Regions from separate parts of the Homo sapiens genome. Here region 1 is linked to region 2. The links come from fine-mapping of genetic effects on gene expression. A gene starts in region 2. The other region holds a variant in brackets. All regions are shown on one strand. Distances are from middle to middle.

Evidence for each region. PIP is the estimated chance that this variant, and not a neighbour inherited with it, causes the effect.
Region 1: its variant is fine-mapped to the expression of LCNL1 in whole blood (TOPMed, PIP 0.90).

The regions. Positions count from the first base shown.
Region 1 is chr9:137,000,479-137,011,794 of GRCh38, forward strand. ABCA2 (ATP binding cassette subfamily A member 2) reads right to left here. Exons shown (of 49, transcript NM_001606.5): 36 at 11,156-11,271; 37 at 10,929-11,076; 38 at 10,708-10,831; 39 at 10,495-10,627; 40 at 10,142-10,259; 41 at 9,715-9,893; 42 at 9,505-9,646; 43 at 9,291-9,425; 44 at 9,063-9,166; 45 at 8,892-8,984; 46 at 8,473-8,575; 47 at 8,253-8,390; 48 at 7,938-8,144; 49 at 6,756-7,486. The coding sequence ends at 7,451. Among named protein-coding and RNA genes, the nearest start is that of CLIC3, 9.6 kb to the left of the region's middle. RefSeq lists an enhancer at 9,958-11,157. The variant A/G (reference allele first, on the strand shown) is at 6,961.
Region 2 is chr9:136,978,949-136,990,676 of GRCh38, forward strand. It overlaps LCNL1 (lipocalin like 1), which reads left to right and starts at 4,045. Exons shown (of 3, transcript NM_207510.4): 1 at 4,045-4,760; 2 at 5,542-5,615; 3 at 5,765-6,810. The coding sequence starts at 4,639. The coding sequence ends at 6,063. PTGDS (prostaglandin D2 synthase) reads left to right here. Exons shown (of 7, transcript NM_000954.6): 2 at 45-184; 3 at 275-351; 4 at 998-1,114; 5 at 1,235-1,336; 6 at 1,885-1,907; 7 at 2,631-2,794. The coding sequence ends at 1,907. RefSeq lists enhancers at 1-595, 5,383-5,940, 5,941-6,496 and a silencer at 11,289-11,583.

The DNA of each region.
Region 1 (11,316 bases), 21 kb after region 2:
AGACCCTGGTCCCCGAGGCCACGGGGTTATCCCTAAACCTCCCGTCCCCTGCAGCCCCTGCTCCTGATTCATAGAGCCAGCGTTAGAGGGGCCCAAGCTGAGGTCCCGAGGCTGCTGCTCTGGGACTGACTGACTGGTGGGTTAGAACTCTCTCCCTCCCCAACACCCCTCCCTGTAGGCCCCTTCCAAGGGGCTCTTTTTTTTTTTTTTTTTTTTTTTTTTTGAGACAGGGTTTCACTCTGTCACCCAGGCTGGAGTGCAATGGCGCAGTCATAGCTCACTGCAGCCTCCACCTCCTGGGCTCCAGTGATCCTCCTGCCTCCGCCTGCACAGGGCCACACCCCAGTGACATTTGAGCAGCTCTGTTCTGAAGGGAGACACACACCTGTTTGGGGGGCCGGAGGGCTGGGGGCATTGGGGTATTGGTGCAAACTTGTGCAGAGATTTATCTGCTCTGTGCATGGAGAGAGCCTAGAAGCAGTGAGACCTCGGGAGCGGTGAGACCTCGGGGGCGGCGAGACATCGGGGGCGGCGTGACCTCGGGGGCGGCGAGACCTCGGGGGCGGCGGGACCTCGGGGGCGGCGGGACCTCGGGGGCAGCGAGACCTCGGGAGCAGTGTGCAGACCAGAGCTCAGATTCTGGTCCCAAAGCCCATCTTCCCTAAAAGGAACCAGGGTTCTGCTAGGGACTGAATGTGTCCTCCCCAAAATTTGTGTGTTGAAACCCTGGCCCCTAGGCCAGGCACATGGCTCACGCCTGTAATCCCAGCACTTTGGGAGGCCGAGGTGAGTGGATCACCTGAGGTTGGGAGTTCCAGACCAGCCAGACCAAAATGGGGAAACCCTGTCTCTACTAAAAATGCAAAATTAGCCGGGCGTGGTGGCACATGCCTGTAATCCCAGCTACTCGGGAGGCTAAGGCAGGAGAATCGCTTGAACCTGGGAGGCAAAGTTTCCGGTGAGCCGAGATCACTCCATTGCACTCCAGCCTGGGTGACAAAGCGAGACTCTGTCTCAAAAAAAAAAAAAAAAACAAAACAAAACCCTGTCTCCTGCAAGGTGATGGTGTTAAGAAGTGGGGTTGGCTGGGCGCGGTGGCTCAAGCCTGTAATCCCAGCACCTTGGGAGGCCGAGGCAGGCGGATCACAAGGTCAGGAGATCGAGACCATCCTGGCTAACATGGTGAAACCCCATCTCTACTAAAAATACAAAAAATTAGCCGGGCGTGGTGTCAGGCGCCTGTAGTCCCAGCTACTCAGGAGGCTGAGGCAGGAGAATGGCATGAACCCAGGAGGCGGAGCTTGCAGTGAGCCAAGATTGCGCCACTGCACTCCAGCCTGGTGACAGATCGAGACTCAAAAAAAAAAAAAAAAAAAAGAAGCGGGGTCTTTTGGAGGTGGGTAGGTCATGAAGGTGACACCCTCGAGATGACCAGAATCAGCGCCCTCATAAAAGGGACCCCGGAGAGCTCCCTCGCTCCTCCTGCCAGGTGAGGAGTCAAGGGAAGTCCACAACCCAGAAGAGCCCTCGCCAGAACCCAGCCATGCTGGCGTCCCGACCTCGGACTTCGAGCCTCCAGAGCTGTGAGGCATGAATGCCACCCGTCCAGGGTCCTTTGCACAGCAGTCCTGGTCGGACTGAGACAGGCTCCTTGGAGAGAGGCTGATTCCAGGTGTGGGGCAGGGAAGGCAGGGACGCACTCAAAACACATCAGGAGCTGGTTACGAAGACACAGAAGCCGTGCTGGAGGGGCGCCTGCTGGAGGGGCACCGCTGGCTGGACCTCAGGCCATCTGAGCATAAGACAACAGTGGATTGTGCGTTATGAATGGTTAACGTGATAAATGTTACATAGATTTTACCACCATCAAAAAATTTTAAAAGAGCCAGATGCAGTGGCTCACCCCTGTAATCCCAACACTCTGGGAGGCTGAAGTGGGAGAATCCCTTGAGCTCAGGAGTTGAAGACCAGCCTGGGCAATATAGCAAGACCCTATCTATACAAAAATAAAAATAAAAATTAGTCGTGTGTGGTGGCACATGCCTGTAAGGAGGCTGAGGCAGGAGGATCACTTGAGCCCAGGAGTTGGAGGCTGCAGTGAGCTATGATTGCACCACCACACTCCAGCCTGGGTGACAGAGCAAGACCCTGTCTCAAAATAAGTAATTAAAAGATGACAGTAATGCATGTTAACACATTAATTTTTTTAAACCTGCAAGTCTGTACTGATAGACTTTTTAAAGTGGAGGGGCCCTTGGTGAGAGAGAAATGCCAGCCAGTAGATGCAGAAATGGAATAGAGGCAGGAAATGGCCATTTTGCAGCTGCTGGCCCTGGGTGACGGGGGTCGGGGGGCGCGGCCACGCAGCACCCAGATTGCGTTCCCACATCTAAGGGAGGGAGAACTGGGCCTCAACCAGGCGGCCACATTCAGCATCACCTGCTGAGGGACAGATGGACACCTGGAGGTGACCGACACAGCGTGTCCCAGTGCTGCTCCGGCCAAAAATGTCCAACCTGCATCCAGCCAGGAGGAAATGAAGACACATCCAGAGCTCAGCCTGGGCCTGCGGAGCCTGTCCCCCTGGAAGGGCAAGAACGCCAAGGCTGGGGACGGCTCAGAGGGGCCCCGGGGAAGGCAGCAAGACACAAGGAGTGCCTCGTGGTTGGATCCTGGATTTTTATTTCCTTTTTTTGTTTGTTTGTTTGAGACAGAGTCTCACTCTGTCGCTGAGGCTGGAATGCAGTGGCACAACCTCAGCTCACCGCAACCTCCACCTCCCAGGTTCAAGCGATTCTCCTGCCTCAGCCTCCCGAGTAGCTGGGATTACAGGCATGTGCCACCACACCCGGCTAATTTTGTATTTTCAGTAGAGACAGGGTTTCTCCATATTGGTCAGCCTGGTCTTGAACTCCCAACCTCAAGTGATCCACCCGCCTCGGCCTCTCAAAGTGCTGGGATTACAGGTGTGAGCAACCATGCCCAGCCTTTTCTTTCTTTCTTTTTTTTTTTTTTTTGAGACGGAGTCTCACTCTGTCACCCAGGCTGGAGCGCTGCTCACTGCAACCTCCGCCTCCCAGATTCTAGTGATTCTCCTGCCTCAGTCTCCCATGTAGCTGGGATTACAGGCGCTACAATGCCCAGCTAATTTTGTATATTTAGTAGAGATGGGGTTTCGCCATGTTGGCCAAGCTGAACTCCTGATTTCAGGTGACCTGCCTACCTCAGCCTCTCAAAGTGCTGGGATGACAGGCTTGAGCCACAGCACCTGGCTGATCCTGGTTTTTTGGAAAAACTCTAAAGAGCATGCCTAGGGCCGGGTGCAGTGGCTCACATCTGTCATCCCAGCACTTTGGGAGGCCGAGGCTGGGAGATCACCTGAGGTTGGGAGTTCGAGACCAGCCTGGCCAACATGGTGAAACCCCCATCTCTACTAAAAATACAAAAATTGGTCAGGCACGGTGGCTCACGCCTGCAATCTCAACACTTTGAGAGGCCGAGGCTAGGCGATCACCTGAGGTCAGGAGTTCAAGACCAGCCTGGCCAACATGGTGAAACCCCATCTCTACTAAAAATACAAAAATTGGCTGGGCATGGTGGCACACATCTGTAATCCCAACACTTTGAGAGGCCAAGGCTGGGTGATCACCTGAGGTCAGGAGTTCGAGACTGTGGGCGGCAAGCTACCCAGGCACCAAGGCAAGAGACCGAGGACATGAGCTGTTCCAGTATAATAAAATATAAAACAAGAATAGTTATACCAGATATAGAACTTAGATATGATTATATATGAATATCATTAATCATTAGTTTGTAGCAATTACTTTTTATTCCAATATTATAATAATCCTCGCTCTATAATCATAGCCTAGGAAAAACCAGGCCATACAGAGATAGGAGCTGAGGGGACATAGTGAGGTGTGACCGGAAGACAAGAGTGCGAGCCTTCTGTTATGCCCGGACAGGGCCACCAGAGGGCTCCTTGGTCTAGCGGTGACGCCAGCGTCTGGGAAGACGCCCGTTGCCAGGCGGACCGTGGTCCAGCGGTAGCAAAAGGTGTCAAGGAACAACACCCGCTACTTAGCAGACCAGGAAAGGGAGTCTCCCTGTCCCCGGGGGAGTTTAGAGAAGACTCTGCTCCACCTCTTGTGGAGGGCCTGACATCAGTCAGACCTGCCCGCAGTTATCCGGAGGCCTAACCGTCTCCTGTGATGCTGTGCTTCAGTGGTCACGCTCCTAGTCCGCCTTCATGTTCCATCCTGTACACCTGGCTCTGCCTTCTAGATAGCAGTAGTCAATTAGTGAAAATACTAATAGTCCCTGATATGCAGAAATAATGGCATAAGCTGTCTTTCTCTCTGTCTCTTCTCTCTCTCTCTGCCTTGGCTGCCAGGCAGGGAAGGGCCCCCGTCCAGTGGACACGTGACCCACGTGACCTTACCTATCATTGGAGATGGCTCACACTCCTTATCCTGCCCCTTCTGCCTTGTATCCAATAAATAACAGTGCAGCCAGACATTCGGGGCCACTACTGGTCTCCACGCATTGGTGTTAGTGGTCCCCCGGGCCCAGCTGTCTTTTATCTCTTTGTCTTGTGTCTTTATTTCTACACTGTCTCGTCACCGCACATGGGGAGAGACCCACCGACCCTGTGGGGCTGGTCCCTACACGAGACCAACCTGGCCAACATGGTGAAACCCCATCTCTACTAAAAATACAAAAATTGGCCAGGCGCGGTGGTTCACACCTGTCATCCCAGCACTTTGGAAGGCTGAGGCTGGGGCAATCACCTGAGGTCAGGAGTTAGAGACCAGCCTGGCCAACATGGTGAAACCTCATCTCTACTAAAAACACACACACACACACAAAAATCAGCCGGGCATGGTGATGCGCGCCTGTAGTCCTAGCTACGCAGGAGGCTGAGGCAGGAGAATGGTGTGAACCCGGGAGGCGGAGCTTGCAGTGAGCCGAGATTGTGCCCCACTCCAGCCTGGGCAAGAGAGTGAGACTCCGTCTCCTCAAACAAATAATAATAAAAAATAAAAAAGGGCATGCCTGGGCCACCGGGGCCCTGAAAAGCCTTGCTGTACCCTTTGTTAACTCTGGGCTACCCTGGCGGCTCTTGGGGGAAGGAGGCTGCAGGGCCGGGGCTGGCAGGTCACAGCTGCTTGCTTTCACATGGGGCAGCACAAAAGTGGGTAGAGCGACGGTGCGTGTGGCAAGATTTCACAGGCGCATCGGCTGAAGATGCGGCGTGCGCTCTGCTATTCTCGCAACTTTCCTGAAAGTTTAAAATGTTCTTTTTGCTGTTGTTTTGAGACAGAGTCTCACTCTGTCATCCAGGCTGGAGTGCAATGGCACGATCTTGGCTCACTGCAGCCTCTACCTGCCAGGTTCAAGTGATTCTTCTGCCTCAGCCTCCCGAGCAGCTGGGAATACAGGCGCCCACCACCACACCCAGCTAATTTTTGTAGTTTTAGTAGAGATGGGGTTTCACCATGTTGGCCAGGCTGGTCTCGAACTCCTGACCTCAGATGATCCACCTGCCTCGGCCTCCCGAAGTGCTGGGATTACAGGCGTGAGCCACCGTGCTCGGCGGAAAATGTTCTGAGGAAGATGCTGGGGGGTGTGTTTGCTTTCAATGCTGCATTACACATCATGAAAATGAAACCTCTAGGGACGATGCCCCCGTGAACTGTGTCAGTCTGTGGGCGGCTGTCCAGGTCCAGCCTGGCCTGGTCCTGCGCGCAGGGTCTCCCTGGGCCTCGGCTGGGCCGTGTTCCTTTCTCGACCTCTTTCTGCCATGATTCAGCCCCTACAGTTGCAGGACGGAGGCTGCTGCGGCCTCCTGCCTTCTGGCGGCTCCCCCACGCATTTCCCTTGGCCGACCACCAAACCCACACCAGCCCCTCCAGTGAGCCACTGTTCCTCTCGGTTCTTCCAGAGTGAACCGCCCCCAGGGCCCAGGACAGCTTCACCCCAGTGACCCAGCCTCTCAGGGACTCCAGCATGGTCATCCCACTGCCTCTCAGGTGGTCACAGTGAGTGCCTCATAGGAACCCAAGTGGATGTGTTGGCCCAGCCCACCCAGTGCCCTCAAGCCCATGGGCCCCTCCCCTGTTGTCCCCCATGTGGCACCAGCCCTCAGTGAGTCCACCCTCTACCCTCCTGAGGAGCCTTGAAACGGCCTAAGGCAAGAGTCTGAACTTGGCCCAGATCACGGGGCGTGAGCTCTGGGGGCCATTCATGCCCCTCCCCCATCTCCTGCCCACAGTGTGCCAGGCTCCACCGCTGATGAGCCTCAAAGCTTCCAGGTCCTGCCTCCCTGGGGCCTTGGCCTGTGCCCTGCCCTCTGGCTGGGATGCCCTTCCCTTAAGGAATCTTCACAGACTTCGGTCTCCTCCTGGAGGTCGCCTCTTCCTGGAAGCCCTCGCTGTCCCTTCCATGACACGGAGACAGCCTAGCCCAGGCTGCTGCAGGCCCCACGTGGGCAGCAAGGGGTGAAGGAGGCTTAGAGAGGGCAGGTGGACGGGAAGATGAAGGCTAAGGGGAAGGGGGCCGGGAGCAACCCCTGAGGGTGGGATGAGGGGGACAGTGAACCATGGTGAACCACCCTGCCTCAGTTTCCCTCCTCCAGACCGACCCAGCCACCCCCTGCCAGCACCTGTGCCTGAGGGGCAGGGCCTTCTGGAGCGCTAACCCACCTGATGCGCCCATCCTCCCCACCCTTCCCAACCCACACACGCAGACCCGCAGACATTTTGTTTATTTATTTAAAACAAACATCTGTGCGCTATGTACAGGCCCGGCTCCCAGGGAGGTGGGCGGGCAGGGGGCCAAGCTGGGTGGGAGAGCGATGGCAGCTGGGGGTTGGGGGGGGTCTGGCCCCTTGCCTGGCCAGCAGGGTCAGCTTCTCCATTCCTGCCACCTGCCAGCTGGCCCAAGCTGATGGCTTCCCGC[A/G]GGACAGCCACCTCCCTGCAGGAGAGCAGGGCCAGAGGAGCCTCTTCTCAAAGCAAAATAAATACGGGACTGACCCAGCTCCGCCCACAGCCCGCTCTCGGCATCAGCCTTCATCGTAAGAGAGAAAAGCTGGTTCCGAGGCCGGGCAGGAGAAAGGCCAGCAGTGCCTGGTCCAGCCGGCGTCGCCTTGGGCGGTGAGCAGTGCCAGGCAGGGGCGAGGGGCCGGGCAGACCCCGAGGCTTTAAGGCAAAGCAGGGCAAGGGTGTACGCAGCCCGGGCCGGGTCAGCCTTTGGCACAATTAGGGGCGGCAACCGCAGTGACCACAGGGCATGGCCGAGTACAGGGGCTGGAGGACCAGAAGCCCCTTGGTCCTGAACCTCCACTCCAGGCCCTGGCAGGCACTGGGGGACTTCTGTCCCCATTGTTGAGTCCCTGGCCCAGCTCTGGGTGGTCAGTGGAGCGTGTCCTCCCTGGCCCAGCTCTGGGTGGTCAGCAGAGCGTGTCCGTGTTGAAGGACAGCTGGGCCTGTGCACAGGGGAGGTCAGGCTTATGGGGCATCCTGTGCCACCCCCTGCTGGGGCTGAGGACACTTGTGCTGGCCCGCCCCGGCCCTCCTGCAGGCTGGGCCTGGACGCAGGGTCTCCCCACGAGCTCCCTCTGTGTCTGGGCTCTCCCGGGCCTCCGTCTGCCGAGTCTGGGGGCCACTGAGTCTACATCGGTCCCCTGTTCCCCGGCTCTGGTCCCCTCTGCCCCACCCTTGCTCTGTGCCCCTCAAAGACTCTAGCAAGTCTGGACCATGCAGTTACGTCTCTCCAGGCCTATCTGCAAGTGTCCCTCGCCCACTCTGCCCCCTTGACCTCTGGACAGCAAGCATCCTGGGGCCAGTTCTCCCCCGACCCCACCCGCGGCTGGAGCCACCAGGCAGCCTGGGTCCAGTGGGCAGAGCCCTGGACAGCCATGAGAGCAGCCTGCTCACCCGCTCCTCCTCGAAGCTGATGAGGCCCTCGTCCTCCGTGTCCAGGTCCTCGGGCTCGTCTGCCACAAGTGCCCGGAGCTCCGTGGGGGCAGACCGGGGCCGGAGCAGGCTGAGCAAGCAGCCGAGAGGGGACTGCAGTGCGGATGGCGGCTCCGTCTCCTGCTGCTCCAGGTTGTCACTCTGCTTCTTGGCAAAGTTCACGAACACCTGGTGGGTGGCGCAGGCGTGTGGGGAGGGGGCTGGTCTGGGGTGAGGAGGGGCAGGGCGGGTGAGGGGAGGGGCAGGTGTGGTGCGCAGTGCCCTTGGGGCGCTCACATTGTCCAGTGTGGTCTGGCTGACCGAGTAGTCCTCGATGCCCAGCACGCCAGACACCTGCTCCATCTTGCTGAACACCTGGGCCAGCGAGATGTGCTCCGACTTGAGCTGGTACTGCACCTTTGTGTGGTGCCGCTCCTGCAGGGGGGGAGGTCAGAGGCCTGGCAGCGCCCCCCCACCCCGTAGCGCCCCCTCCACAACCCTGCCCGGGACGGCGCACCTTGAGCATGGCTTCCGGGAAGTTGCGGTTGAAGAACCGCACCACGTCCTTCACACTCTGGCTGCTCTTGGTCCGCACCGTGATCATGTAGCCATCTCCAAACCTGGTGGGACAGGCCGGTGGCCCGGAGCCCTGCGCCGCCCAGCCAGAGCCCCAGCCCCCCAGCCTCCCAGCCCTACAGCCCCCACAGGCACCCCAGGAAGCCCCATAGCCTCCCACAGCCCCCCAACCCCACAGCCCCCACAGCCCTCCAGGCTCCTCCCCTGGCCCCACTGCCCCAGTCCCCCCAGCCCCAGTGCCCCCAGCCCCCCTGGCCCCACAGCCCTCACAGCCCTGCAGCCACCCCCACTCCTGGCCCCGCTGCCTGGCCGCCCCCCCCGGGCCCGCCCCAGCCCACCCCTGGCCCTGCCCCGGCTCACCGGTTCTTCAGGTGCTGGATGCTGCCCAGGCACCGCAGGCGACCGTTCACCATGATGGCCAGCCGCGTGCACAGCGCCTCGCACTCCTCCATGCTGTGGGACATGCACAGGCTGGCACCGGAAGGGGTGCTGTGGGGTGGGGGCACAAAGAGGGGGTGGGGGCGCCCTCACCTGTGTGATGTCAGCACCACTGAACGCCCTGTCTTGATGAGGTCAAGGATGAGGTTCCAGAGGAAGCGCCGGGCCTTGGGGTCCATGCCTGTGGTGGGCTCGTCCTGGGGATGGGTGGCAGGCTCAGCTGCTGCCAGGCCCACACACCCCAGCCTGAACGCTGCCCCTGCCCGTGCTCACCAGGAAGTCAAAGGCCAGGCAGCCACCCCCCACCCACCCAGGACTTACCAGGAAGATGAAGGCTGGGTACCCAATGAGGGCGATGGCCGTGGAGAGCTTCCGCTTGTTGCCGCCGCTGTAGGTGCCAGCCGGCTTGTCTGCGTACTTGGTCAGCTCCAGCTTCTCCAGAGCCCACTTCACCACCTGGCCAGGGAACGCAGGTGTCAGTGGAGGCAGGGCCACCCAGCGTGCTGACTCCCTGCCCCGCCCCACAGATCCTCACCCGGGCCTCGTCCTTCCAGGAGATCCCACGCAGCCGCGTGTACAGCTGCAGGTGCTCCCGGGCCGTGAGCTCGTCGAACAGCGCGTCACACTGCGGGCAGTAGCCGAGGCTCTGCTGCACCTGGAGCAGCTCCTTCAGCACGCTGGGGACACGGCAGCTGTCAGCGCGTGAGGACGCGGCGGCCCCGCCCACCCAGGGCTCCCGCCCCACCTGTGTCCATTGACGAAGGCCTCGCCCCCCGTCGTGCTCTCGTCGCCGGTCAGCATCTTGAAGGTGCTGGTCTTGCCCGCACCGTTGACGCCCAGGAGCCCGAAGCACTCGCCAGGACGCACACCCAGGCACAGGCGGTCAACGGCCAGGATACGGCCAATCTTCCGGGACTTGTAGACCTGGCCAGGAGCCTGCCCACTCAGCGGGGCATCCTGCCCCCACCCTGCCCCTCTGGCCCCACCCCACCCAGACCCTGCCCCACCTCCAGAGCCCAGGGGGCCACGTGCCCCACAGCCCCACCCCATGCAGGCCCCACCCCCAGAGCTCAGGGCCCTGCCCACCCAGGCTCCACCTCCACTGCTGGGGCCCCACCCCCCTGGCCCTGGCCTACCCCACCCAGGCCCCACCCTACATGCCCAGAGCCCACCTTGGTCAGGTTCTCAATCTTGACCATGTCATTGTCGGCGTCTCCCCGGAGCACTCGCTGCCGCTCACTGGCCACGTCCACATCATCCTCCACAGGCTTGGTAGACACAGGCATGCGCCTTGGGGGACAGGGTGGACAGTGTCCAGCAGCTCGCCACCCCCACTGCCCCTCCCTGCCACCAGCCTCGCATCCTCTGGCTGTGGCATGTAAGAAGGGTGGGCAGGCCCCTCTGCTGTCCCCTGCCTCACCCCCTCCTGCCCCATCCCTGCCCCCACCCCCGCCCCTACCCTGCCCCACCCCCGAACCCATCCCTGCTCCCGCCCCGCCCCCGCCCCACCCCGCCCCCCACTCACTGTGGCCGCCGCAGGAAGTTGTACTGGCACATGATGGTCAGGAGGAAGCCCACGACGCCCTCAACCGCCATGGCCACCAGTCCGCGGGTGACAATGTCCCACTCGAACGGGGACTTCATCTTGTCAAACTGGCCTGCGGGGAGACAGCTCAGGGCCTGTGCTCTGGGCCTTGCGGGGCCCCCACCGCCTTCCCCGCCCCACGGGCCCCCTCACCAATCTTGGCGTAGTACTCGTTGATGTACTCGTTGTAGGCCATCTCCATGAGCCCGTGGCCCAGGTTGTAGTTGGGGAAAATGAGGAAGCAGCTTTTCAGGTAACTGTTGACAACCTTCAGGTCCTGCGGGGTGGCCGGGGTCAGGGGCACAGGGGTGGCCGGGGTGAGGGGCACAGCCTCCGCAGGGTCCGCCACCCCCACCATGTCGTCACCGCCCCACCTTGTCGTGCTCGAAGAGCTGTAGCAGGAAGGTGGCCACGGTGGCGGTGATGCCGATGAAGAGATTGATGACAATGAGGAACACGTAGGCGGAGCTGGGGACCTCGAACCAGAAGGAGGCCGGGTACATGATGGGCGTGATGGACCACCTGCGGGCAGGTGGCGGGCAGTGGTCACCAGGCAGCCCCGGTCCCACCTGAGGCCGCTCCCCCCTCCGCTTCCGCTTACCCATAGAGCAGGAAGAGGGAGAGGACGGCAGGGAAGTTGGTGGGCGACGTGTAGGCCGGCAGGTCGAACACAAACAGGATGATGACACAGCAGGTAGCGGGGACCAGGTAGTTGAGCTGCAGGGGTGGGGGCGGCTGGTGAGAGACCCGGGGCAGGGCGGG
Region 2 (11,728 bases):
TCCGGAGGGTCCTGGCCGACGCGGGTGGGGGTCGCTCGCCGCAGTTCCTGGGGCGCTGGTTCAGCGCGGGCCTCGCCTCCAACTCGAGCTGGCTCCGGGAGAAGAAGGCGGCGTTGTCCATGTGCAAGTCTGTGGTGGCCCCTGCCACGGATGGTGGCCTCAACCTGACCTCCACCTTCCTCAGGTGGGACAGCGGGCAGGTGGGTTTCTGGGACGGAGAGGTCCAGGGACACCCTCGGGCCTAACCCCTGACCCTGAGGTCACCCACCTACAGGAAAAACCAGTGTGAGACCCGAACCATGCTGCTGCAGCCCGCGGGGTCCCTCGGCTCCTACAGCTACCGGAGTCCCCGTGAGTGGGGCCTCCACCGGCCCCCTGGGCCCAGCCTGGGGGCGACACTTGCCGGGACGACTCTGGGCCAGCCCCCTGCCGCGGAGATCCATGGGGTGGGAGGTGATGGCTGCCCCACCAGCGTCAGAGGCAAAGGCCAGGCCTGGGCGTGACTACCCATGCACAAGTGTTAGGGACAGAGAGACCCTTCCTCCAGGGGGTTGGATCCTCTCTGGAGCCCACCATTGTCTTGTCAGGCCCCTTCCCTGCCCTCTGGAGTTTTCCCCACATAAGCAGCCCCCCAAGGCCCCTCCATATGCCTCCTCCCAATTCTCCTCCCCAGGACCCAGGGGTTTCCTCACTCCCACCTGGGGAATGGCTCCCACGGGGAAACCTCTTCACTTCCGGTTCTGGCAGCGACTTCTGCGGCTGCACCAGGAATCCTGGTTTTCTGAGCCTGGCTCCCCCAGATTCTGGTTTGGGGACAGGGTTCACAGGCTGTGCAGGCGAGAGCAGGGCACTGGCTGGAGAGCAGCCGGGTGGGGGAGCATCCCGGGCCAGCCGAGGGGCTGAGTGCCCCCAAAGCCCACAGGTGCACCCCTTCCCTGAAGCAGAGGTGAGGTTTGGGGGGCTGAGTCCCCGACAGGGTTGTCTCTTGGGTTCCCAGACTGGGGCAGCACCTACTCCGTGTCAGTGGTGGAGACCGACTACGACCAGTACGCGCTGCTGTACAGCCAGGGCAGCAAGGGCCCTGGCGAGGACTTCCGCATGGCCACCCTCTACAGTACGTGCCCCGTGGACGCCGCCCACACGCAGGCCTGACCAGAGGGGGCTCCCCAAGACCCAGGGCAGGGCACACAGCATCCCCCCCGCTGAGGCCAGCTCCGTCTCCACCCTGTCCCAGGCCGAACCCAGACCCCCAGGGCTGAGTTAAAGGAGAAATTCACCGCCTTCTGCAAGGCCCAGGGCTTCACAGAGGATACCATTGTCTTCCTGCCCCAAACCGGTGAGGGGTCCTAATCTGATGGGGAGAGGATCAAGGTCAGATTAGAGGCAGGCAGGCAGTCTCCTGACTGGGGGAGGCAGAGGGGAGGAGGTGGCCCCGCCCTGCTCGAGGCCTGGGCCAGGGACAGAGGGGGTGAGTGTTCAAGTCAGAACCTCCCTCCCGCAGCCCCTTCATGAGGAGCCCCCTCCATGGGGGACATGGAGACCAGGCGCCCACTCTGTGCCAGGCCCCAGCAGCTCCCAGGATGTGGGGCTTCAGCCTGGTGGGGGGCATAGGGTAGAGGGTGCCCATGGGGGATACAGGGGAACCAACCATACTGGGCTCAGGCACAGCCTCCTAGGGGTGGACAGCCTGCTCTTGGCAGAGGTGGAGAAAGACCCTCTCTTTGTTTCCAGTGCCCAGGGAGAGGTGGGAGGTGATGGGGGATCTGTGCAGTTTGGGGGCTCAGTCAAGACGAGCTCTGCGTTACGGGAGGAACAGGAAGCCCAGTGGGAAAATTGGCCTAAGTCTGGGGTTCTGACGACAGCCCCTGGCTTCTTTCTTGGCAGATAAGTGCATGACGGAACAATAGGTGAGCCACTCCATTCATTCATTCATTCATTCATTCATTCATTCATTCAACACACATCCACCCAACCCACTCTGCGATGGGATGGATCAGGGCCCCAGGACAGCCTGGTGCTGCAGACCCATCCTTCCCGATGGCTGCAGTCCAGGGCCGGGCGGGAGACACTGGGGCTGCCCACATTGATGGGTGCACAGGTGTGAGGCTCAGAAGGAAAACCTGTCCCAGTGGCTGGAACAGGGCTGACTCCTGAAGGCTCATGGTTGGGGGGTGCAGGTGCGAGGCCCCAGGCAGACAAGGCCAAGGGGCTATACCACAGGGACCACCTGGCAGCAAGGGTGTCTGGCTCCTGGGCTAGGAGGAAACCAGGGTGGGGGAGACAGGATGGGAGGGAACAGGGGATGGAAGGGGAGGGCCAAGGACGCTACATGGATGCCGTGGGACAGCTCGGAGAGCAGGCTCAGGGCGGATTCACCCACCACCCCCAGGAGGGAGGCCTAGGCTGGAGCTGGAGTCTGTGGACCCTGGGGCTGGGAAGGGTGGAGTCTGTAGACCCTGGGGCAGCGGGGATCCAAGCCCCAGGGATGGATCTTGCTCTCTCAGCGGGGCTCAGTGGGGCTGGGGGCAGAGAAAAGTCCCCGTAGCCCGCACCTGCTCCATCGACTGGAGTGGAGGTGGGCTGGGGTAGACTGCAGTCCTCCATCCTAGCCTTTCGGTCACACCCCTCAGGACTCCCCAGGGCTGAAGCTGGGATCCCGGCCAGCCAGGTGACCCCCACGCTCTGGATGTCTCTGCTCTGTTCCTTCCCCGAGCCCCTGCCCCGGCTCCCCGCCAAAGCAACCCTGCCCACTCAGGCTTCATCCTGCACAATAAACTCCGGAAGCAAGTCAGTAGAGCTGGCTCCTGGCTGTCTGCGCTGTCATCACCCGTCCTGGGCCTGGCCCTGGCCACCCGGACCTCCCCCTCTAAAATCTCAGCCTGACGTCAACAAAGGAACAGGCCCTCTAGTGTTTGCTCCCAGTGGGGTCTTGAGTCAGGACAGCTAGGAGGGGGTGTCCCTCACTGTCTCCCACCCACCCCACACAGTCGTGTGCCCCTGCCCCACAGCCCCACACGTCGAGCCATACCCCCTCAGCTGCCACTGCCACCAGGCCGGTGCTGAGCTGGGGGTCAGTGACTCAGCTAATCCCTTAGGCAGGTGCCCTGCACCCCCAACGCCACCCTGTCACCCCCTCAGCAGTAAAGGCCTGAGGCTCGAGGCCCCAGAGGAGCTTTGGACCTGTTGGGTATCTTGAGGTGTGGGATTAACGCACTGAGATTGGGCAGAGATAAGGGTTTCAGGGGACAAAAAGAAACATTTGTTTGAAACATGCCAGAGTGTCTCCACCCCGCATCAGGACAGACTGACAGAGTGGGCTGGGGACAGGCTACCCCATATCCCTTCTGGCTCCCTGTGCGCCCCCTGCCCTCTGACCTGGGCCTCCAGATCACAGCCTTGTCCACTCACCAGAGCCCTGGCACCACGGCCACACCATGCCCGGCCAGTGCCCTGCCCAACCCTGCTCCCTTCCAGATTCCCACCCAGGCAGCCATTCTCAGGTACACAATGTGCAGGACTCACTGTGACCTGCCCACCAGGCCCCCCCGAGGCAGACCCTGCAGAGGCACCAAGCATTTTGAGGCTCGGAGGTGAGGGTGAGCTTCTGGGTGGCCTTCCCGGAGAAGGGGGCTTAGGGCTGTGCCTGAGCTCAAGGTAGGGGGGATTCCAACATCCCAGAGGGGCTGCAGAAGGCCGAAGAGGCAGGATGGGTGAGCTGCAGGCCCCCTAGCCCAGAGGCCCGTCAGAACTACCCTCAGCTGCCAGGCATCCGGCCCCACCCCGGAGGAAAGGCAACGGATGGCTGGGGTTGGGTGGAGGGAGCCAGGCCAGAGCGCTGCAGGGTGCAACTTGATCAGAAGCCTGTCACAGTGGGTGCAGTCCCAGGCCAGCCGCCCCAGGGCACCTCAGGGGCGTAAAGCCTACAGAGGAGCCACCTCAGCTCTGCCCTGCTCCCGTGTCCGGAGGAGATGCCATCTTGCTGCATGATGCTTCGGGCTCTGCTGATCAGTTCCCTCCTTGCCCTGCTCTGGGCATCCCCAGGCCAGGCCCAGGTCCCCATCCAGGCCAACTTTGATGCCAGCCAGGTGTGCCCAGCCCTGTTTCCTCCTCATCTCCAATGAGTCCTCCCGGCTTTGGTGCTGCACCCCGGGTCCCTGTCCACACCCTCTTTGATCCAGGCTCAGCAGGGCTAGGGGCAGGGGAAACCCCCACCTCACCCGCTCCGTCTGACTGGAGTAGGGGTTGGCTGGGGAAGACTGCAGCCTCCATCCTACCTTTTCAGTTGCATCCCCCAACAATCCCCAGGGCCCAAAATAGGGACAAGTTGGTTGCCTGTGCCTCACTGTCCCCCACCCACCCCACAAAGACCTGTGACCTTGCCACAGCCCCACCCATCCAGCCGTACCCCCTGGGTGCCAGCTGCAGACAGGCCGGTGCTGGGCTGGTGGGGGCCAGTTGCTCATGTACTGAGGCCCCCCTCCCTCAGTTCTGCATCGGGGTCGAGATGTGTACAGCAGCCCCTGCCGTGGCCAGGAAGCAGCTGTGTCGGGGCAGAATGTGGTGGGCTCAGGCCCAGGGCACAGGGGCGGCCTCCCAGCCTTCCCTGCACTTGCCCTGCAGTTCCAGGGCACCTGGTACATGGTCGGGGTGGTGTCAGATGACCAGGACTTCCTGGACTCCAAGGACACCATGAAGATGGCTGTGGTCTTAGTGACCCCCTTGGGGAATGGTGACCTGGCCCTCAAGTTTGGATACCCCACGTAAGTGACCACACGAGCCCATCAGACTCAGCCTCAGAGGATGGCCAGCATGAGGCCACATGAAGGTCCAGAGGGACCATGGTGTCCCCAGCACATTGAGGTCAGACCACGGGTCCTCGACGGCTCTGTGCGGCAGAGCCCCAGATGGCAGCCACACGGAGTCCAGAGGGACCCAGGCCCTGGAGGAAGCACTGCCTGAGGCCTGGTGTTGAGAAAAGTGTCTGCATGTCTGTGTCTGTGTGTGTATCACTGTATGTGGCTGTGTCTCTGTGTATGTGTGTCTATTTCTGCATGTGTGTGTGTCTGTGTGTGCGTGTGTATGCATGTGTGTCTTTGTAGATGTGTACCTCTGAGTGTGTATGTGTGTATCACTGTATGCGTCTGTGTGTCTGTGTGTCTGTGTATCTGTGTCTGGCTGTGTGTGTCTATCTCTGTGTGTGTCTTGTGTGCGTGTCTATGTGTGTGTCTGTCAGTGTGTCTGTGTCTGTGTCTATCTCCGTGTGTGTGCATGTGTGTATGTGTGTGTCTTCTGTGTGTCTGTGTCTGGAAGGGGGACCTGGAGGCCCTGCATTCTAGGCTGTGTGCCTGTGAACAGGTACTTAATACCCACCCCACCCCCAGCAGGAGTGTCCCCACCTCTAAGGTCATCCTAAAGTCCCATGTCCTCTAAGGATTGTGAGGGTGAACAGGGGACCCTGGGCTCAGAGACAGCAAGGTAGGCTCTAGGCCTGGGCGCTGGGCAGGGGTGGCCACTCAGGGGATTGGGGCTCTTTCTCCCCAGGCCCCATGGCGGGTGCCAGAAAATGGACACGACCTTCACCGAGGGTGCTGTACCGGGGCAGTTCAGCAACCCAGGTGAGGTGGGGCAGCAGGCAGGGCTGTGGCGTGGGGGCCCTGGAGGCTGCATGGACTGCTGGATTGGCACCTGGGGCCGGGGCGTGAGGGGTGCCACGCTCGGGGGGGAGGTGCCCTGGGCCTGGGGTCAGCGGCTCTCGCTCCTCCAGCCATGGCCCTGAGTGACATCCGAGTGGCCTTCTCCGACTACCAGCACTTTGCCTTGCTGTACTTGGAGATGCGGAAAGGGGGCCTGCGGAACCAGTGGCTGCAGCTCTACGGTGGGCGGGCTGCGGGGCGGAGACCCAGACACCCCCGCTTCGGGTCTGGGATGTCACCCCTGTGCCTGCACCAGCCCTTTCTGCACGCGGAAGGTGGAACCGCTGGCTCCTGGTGTCTGTGGCCGCGGGTCCCGGCCCCTCCCTGCCCCTCTCTCCCTCTCTTCGCCCCTCCAGCCCCTTCCCTTTAGCTTACCCGCCCTCCCCACCTTCAGCTCGAGCGCCCGAGCTGTTTCCCGAAGGCGCCCAGAAGATGCAGCTACTGGCGCCCCAAGTGGGCCTGAGCCCCAGCCAGGGCGTCCTGCTGCCGAAGTCGGGTGAGCGGTGCCGGCAGCCCTGCTGGGAGGGCCAGGCCCCGGGTCACACCCCTGCTGGAAGGGCCAGGCCCTGGTCACTCCACTGATCTCAGATTCGGGACAGAAGTGCCCGGGGCAGACCCAGCCTGTCTGGGTCGGGGGAGGGCGAGACGTTGCCCAGGCCGGTGTTCCCAGGAGGAGATCGCCTTGGGGCAGGTCGGGGGCCTCCGTCCCAGGGAAGGGGGCGCGGGGTGGCGCCTCAGGCTCGATCTCTCTGCAGACCAGTGTGCGGGCGCGCTCTCCCGGGTGAGTAGACCATGGCCATGCGGAGCCGCGGACCATGGGCCCTCCCAGCTCGGTGGGCTGCACCGCGGGGCCCTCTACCTTCGGGGCAGCTAGGGACGACAGCGGGGGTGATGGGGCACCCGGGCGGATCCGAGCCGCAGCAGCCTGGGGAACCGCGGGGCTGCGCGTCGGGAGGGGGCGGAGGCAGGGGACGCCGCCCACCTGCTCCTTGTTTTGCAGTGAGGGGTCCAGCCCCTGAGTGCCCGCAGGGGTCAGCTGCTCCGTGCGCCCAGCCCTGCCCAAAGAGCCCCCTCCCTCCACACCCTGGCCCCAAGCGCAATAAACACCCTGAATGCCTGTGGCGCTGTGCGTTTCTTGGGGGCAGGGAGGGGTGGCGGGGGGGCGGCCAGGTACATGGGCGCCCTGGGGGAGGGGCCGGGTCACCCCCTGTTGCCCCTCTGGGTAGGCGTTAGCCCAGGAGGGACCGAGCCTCGGCTCCGTGGCAGGGAGGTTCCTCAGGACGGGCCCCAGCCCCAGCTCTGGGACTTTTCTACCTCCGCACGGACCCAGACCCCCAGACTGGGGGCGCCGGGAGGGCGGGACACGGACACCACGCGGCGCGCGCCCCAGGCTTCAGCGGACACCGCCGCGCGACGTGGCCTTCCGGGTCCTCCCAAGCGGCTGCCCCAGTCAGTGTCGGCGGCTTCCATCCCCAGGCGCCCCTCCGGGTCCCCCAGCTCCCCAGCCCCTGACTCCTGGCTCCAGGACCCGCCCCAGAGGCCTGGCTGTTCCGGAGACCAACGAAGCGCTCCCAACTCTGACCCAGGGCCTGTCCACGGAGAGTGGAGGGCGAGGAGGACAGGAGGAGCCGCATAAAACTCTGCCCTGCCTGGAGTCTATGTAGGACAGTGTTGTCTTTTACAGACAAGTCTCGAAGAATTTGAAGGAAAATAGCCTACTAGCTGTAATGTACCTAGTTCAGCAAAATAATAATAAAAATACTGGTTGCAAATCTGTGAATATTTGGATAGTGTTTAATCTGGGTGATGGGTCTACGGGGTGCAGTATGCTCTGATTTCTCCTTCTCAGTTGGTCAGAGTTTTGTTTGTTTGTTTTTTTGAGATGGAGTCTCGCTCTGTCGCCCAAGCTGGAGTGCAGTGGTGCGATCTCGGCTCACTGCAAGCTCCACCTGCCAGGTTCAAGTGATTCTTCTGCCTCAGCCTCCCAAGTAGCTGGGATTACAGGTGATCGCCACCACGCCCTGCTAATTTTTGTATTTTTAGTAGAGACAGGTTTTGCCATGTTGGCCAGGCTGGTCTCAAACTCCTGACCTCAAGCGATCCACCCACCTTGGCCTCCCAAAGTGCTGGGATTACGGGCGTGAGCCACTGGGCCCAGCCCAGAAAATTTGTTATTAAAAAACACCACTCGGGCCGGGCCCAGCACTTTGGGAAGCTGAGGCGGGCGGATCATGAGGTCAGGATATCGAGACCATCCTGGCTGACACGGTGAAACCCCGTCTCTACTAAAAATACAAAAAATCAGCCGGGTGTGGTGGCGGGCGCCTGTAGTCCCAGCTACTCGGGAGGCTGAGGCAGGAGAATGGCGTGAACCTGGGAGACGGAGCTTGCAGTGAGCCAAGATTGTGCCACTGCACTCCAGCCTGGGCCACAGAGCGAGACTCTGCCTCAGAAAAAAAACAAAACAAAACAAAAAAACACCACTCGGCGGAGCACAGTGGCTCTGCATCCCCCCTGCATTCCCAGGAAGATTCCGAGCCGGGAAATGCAGGTTGCCCTCCACAGCCTCAGGGATGCCCTTTCCTTCCTTCCAGGGTGGGGCAGCCTCTGGGGGTGGCTGTGGGTCCAGCTGTGGTCAGCCCCCAATCCCTTGCAGACGCATCGAGTCCCTCACCTCCCACGCTCAGCCCTTTCTCCACCTAGAAGCCCAGGGGATGGATTCACAAGATGTGTCAGATCAGGCCCCCCTGCTCAGCACCCCACAGTGGGTCCCATTGCACTGAGAGTAAAGGCCTAAGTCTTTTTTTTTGGAACGAAGTTTCGCTCTTGTTGCTCAGGCTGGAGTGCAGTGGCGCGATCTTGGCTCACTGCAACCTCTGCCTCCCGGGTTCAAGCGATTCTCCTGCCTCAGCCTCCTGAGTAGCTGGGATTATAGGTGCCCGCCACCACGCCCAGCTAATTTTTGTATATTTAGTAGAGACGGGGTTTCACCATGTTGACCAGGTTGGTCTTGAACTTCTGACCTCAGGTGATCCACCCACCTCGGCCTCCCAAAGTGCTGGGATTACAGCCGTGAACCGCCATGCCCGGCCTCAGGCCTAAGTCTTGATGGTGGCCAACAAGGTCTTCTCTTTTAGGCTTTCCTTTGACCCACCATCCACTCCCCTCCCTCCGTCCTGCTGCCAGCCCCTCACGTGTCTCAGGGCCTTTGCCCAGGTCACCCCTGCCTGGACTGCCCTTCTCCCAGTGCCACTCAGTGCACTCACTCCCGTCTCTGAAGTCTTGCTCAAATACCTCCCTTGGTTGTTGACCTCTGCTACCCCAAAACTTGACTGGCCCCCACTCCCCTAGAGCTCGTTCTCCGGACCTTTTGCTCCTCTTTTTGGCCCAGCTTCCAGGTGCTCTATGCCTTGGGAAAGGTCAGCCCTTTCCCTCCCCTGTTCTGCCTCCATCACCGACTTCAAGTGTGTGCGTGGGGACTTTGTAATCCCTCTCCTTCTGCTTGCAAAGCTCCACTAACCTTATATCTCATACACTGTATTAATGTATCCTACATTAAAGAAAATTGCTCCCATGGCTGGGTGCAGTGGCTCATGCCTGTAATCTCAGAGCTTTGAGAGGCCGAGGCAGGCGGATCACCTGAGGTAGGAGGTCGGGAGTTCGAGACCAGCCTGACCAACATGGAGAAACCCTGTCTCTACTAAAAAATACAAAAATTAGCCAGGTGTGGTGGTGGGCATCTGTAGTCCCAGCTACTCGGGAGGCTGAGGCAGGAGAATCGCTTGAACCTGGAAGGCAGAGGTTGCGGTGAGCCGAGATCGCACCACTGCACTCCAGCCTGGGCGACAGAGCGAAACTCCGTCTCAAAAAAAAAAAAAAAAAAAAAGTATAAAAAAGTATCTCAGAGAAGGACGTGGTGGAAGCCAGTGGAAAAGCTGCTGCCAGTAGATGAAGCTGGCCCGATGTGAGCCACGAAACAGAACATGACACCAGGGTGTGAGCCAAAGTGTAAAATAAACACCTGAGGTCCACACGGACCCAGCCTGAGGCTAGTTAAATGAAGGTTTTGCAGTTTTCTCGTCATGTTTTGGAACTAATCTTTGTTTCTGGTCTTGTGTCAGTTCCTACAGCTGCCACAAATTATCACAAACTTGTAGCTTGAAGCCAGAGTTCAAAATCAGTTTAATAGGGTCGAGGTATCAGCCGGGCTGTGCTCCCTCCGAGGGCTCTAGGGGAGAAACCTTCCTTGCCTCTTCTAGCTTCTTTGTCTTCTTTTTTTGTTGTTGTTGAGACAGAGTCTTGCTCTGATGTCCAGGCCAGAGTACTATGGCGCGATCAGATCACTGAAGCCTTGAACTCCTGGGCTCAAGCAGTCCTCCTGCCTCAGCCTCCTAAGTAGCTGGGACTACAGGCATGCATCGCTATGCCTGGCTAATGTTTTCTTTTTAGAGATGGGTCTTGCTGTCTTGCTCAGGCTGGCCTTGAACTCCTGGCCTCAAGCAGTCCTCCCACTCTGAACTCCCAAAGCACTGGGATTGCAGGCATGAGCCACTGGGCCTGGCCTCTTCTGGTGGGATACCCTACCTTGTTTCCACCTGAGTGACCCTCTCCTGGCAGAGAGAGAGCCGGACACACTCCATTTTAGTTTCTTCACCTGCGGCCCCCTTTCACCTTCCTCCCTGAAGGCATAGCTAGTGTAAACTGACTCAAAGCACGTCCAGGAATGCACCTACTGATAAGACATTGAGGCAAGCTGCACCAGCAGCTCCTGGGGACACGCGTGGTGGATGGCACCCAAAACCCCTGCATTTATCTCTTTGTGATAGTTTAAGCCTCTGCACCTGGAACTGTTTATTTTTTGTAACTGCATTTGTAACCAATTAATTTTTTTAACTTTTTGCCAGTTCTGCTTCCGTAAAAATTGCTTCAGCTAAAATCCCCCCTCCCCTATTTAGACCACGGTATAAAAACAAAACTAGCCCCTTCCTCGGGGCCGAGAGAATTTTGAGCGTTAGCTGCCTCTCAGTCGCGGCTAATAACGGACTCTTTAATTTGTCTCAAAGTGTGGCGTTTCTGTATAACTCGCTTGGTCACAACACTGGCTTCTGATAGCAGCCTGTAATCCTTGGCTTGTGGGCTGCATCGCTCCAGTTCCTCCCTCCATGCCATGCTGCCTTCTTTTCTGTCTCAAAGCTTCCTCTGCCTCACTTTTAAAAGGCCCTTGAGATGGCACTGAGGGCCTCCCTGGGCAATCCAGGATAATCACCCCATCTCAAGGGAATATCTGCAAACACTCCTTTCTTTTCTTTCCTTTTTTTGGGGGGAAGGGGAGACAGGATCTCACTCTGTTGCCCAGGCTGGAATGCAGTGCCCAGCATCTTCCATAGACAATAGCATTCACAGGTCCCAGGGATTAGGGCCTGATATCTGGGGCCTGCTACAGCCAGCATCTCAGAGTTCACATGACAAAGAAGAGGCCCCCCAGTCCTCTCCAAATCTGCCCCACCCCAGTCATCTTGGGGATGAATCTCCCCTTTCCACTCTTCCCAAATGCCAGGGCCATCCTTGATTGTTCTTTGTCTCCTCCTCCCTCCACCTCCAGTCCGAGCCCATGGTCCACCCCTCTCCTCTGCAGCCCCCGTCCTCTCTCCTCACAGCACAGAATACGGACTTCACACACATAAGTCAGACGTGCCACTTCCCATCCACCCCTGCTTAAACCTCCAACAGCCACCACCCCCCATTCATTCATTCACAATGTTTATTCAGTGTCTGTATGTGCCAGCCATTGTGTAAGCGCTGAAGAGACGGATACACTGGCAGGTAAAACAGACAGAAATCCCTGCCCTCATGGACCTCCTGGGGTGATGGACAATAAGCAGGGTAAATAAGTGTATTGGTGGTCACTTACTGCAGAGTGACAGGTTACCCCAAATGCAGCTGCTTAACCAGCAGGCATGCATTATCTCCCAGTGTCAGCCAGGCAGGACTCTGGGCCTTTGACACAAAGTTTCAGGAGGCTGTGGTCAAGCTGC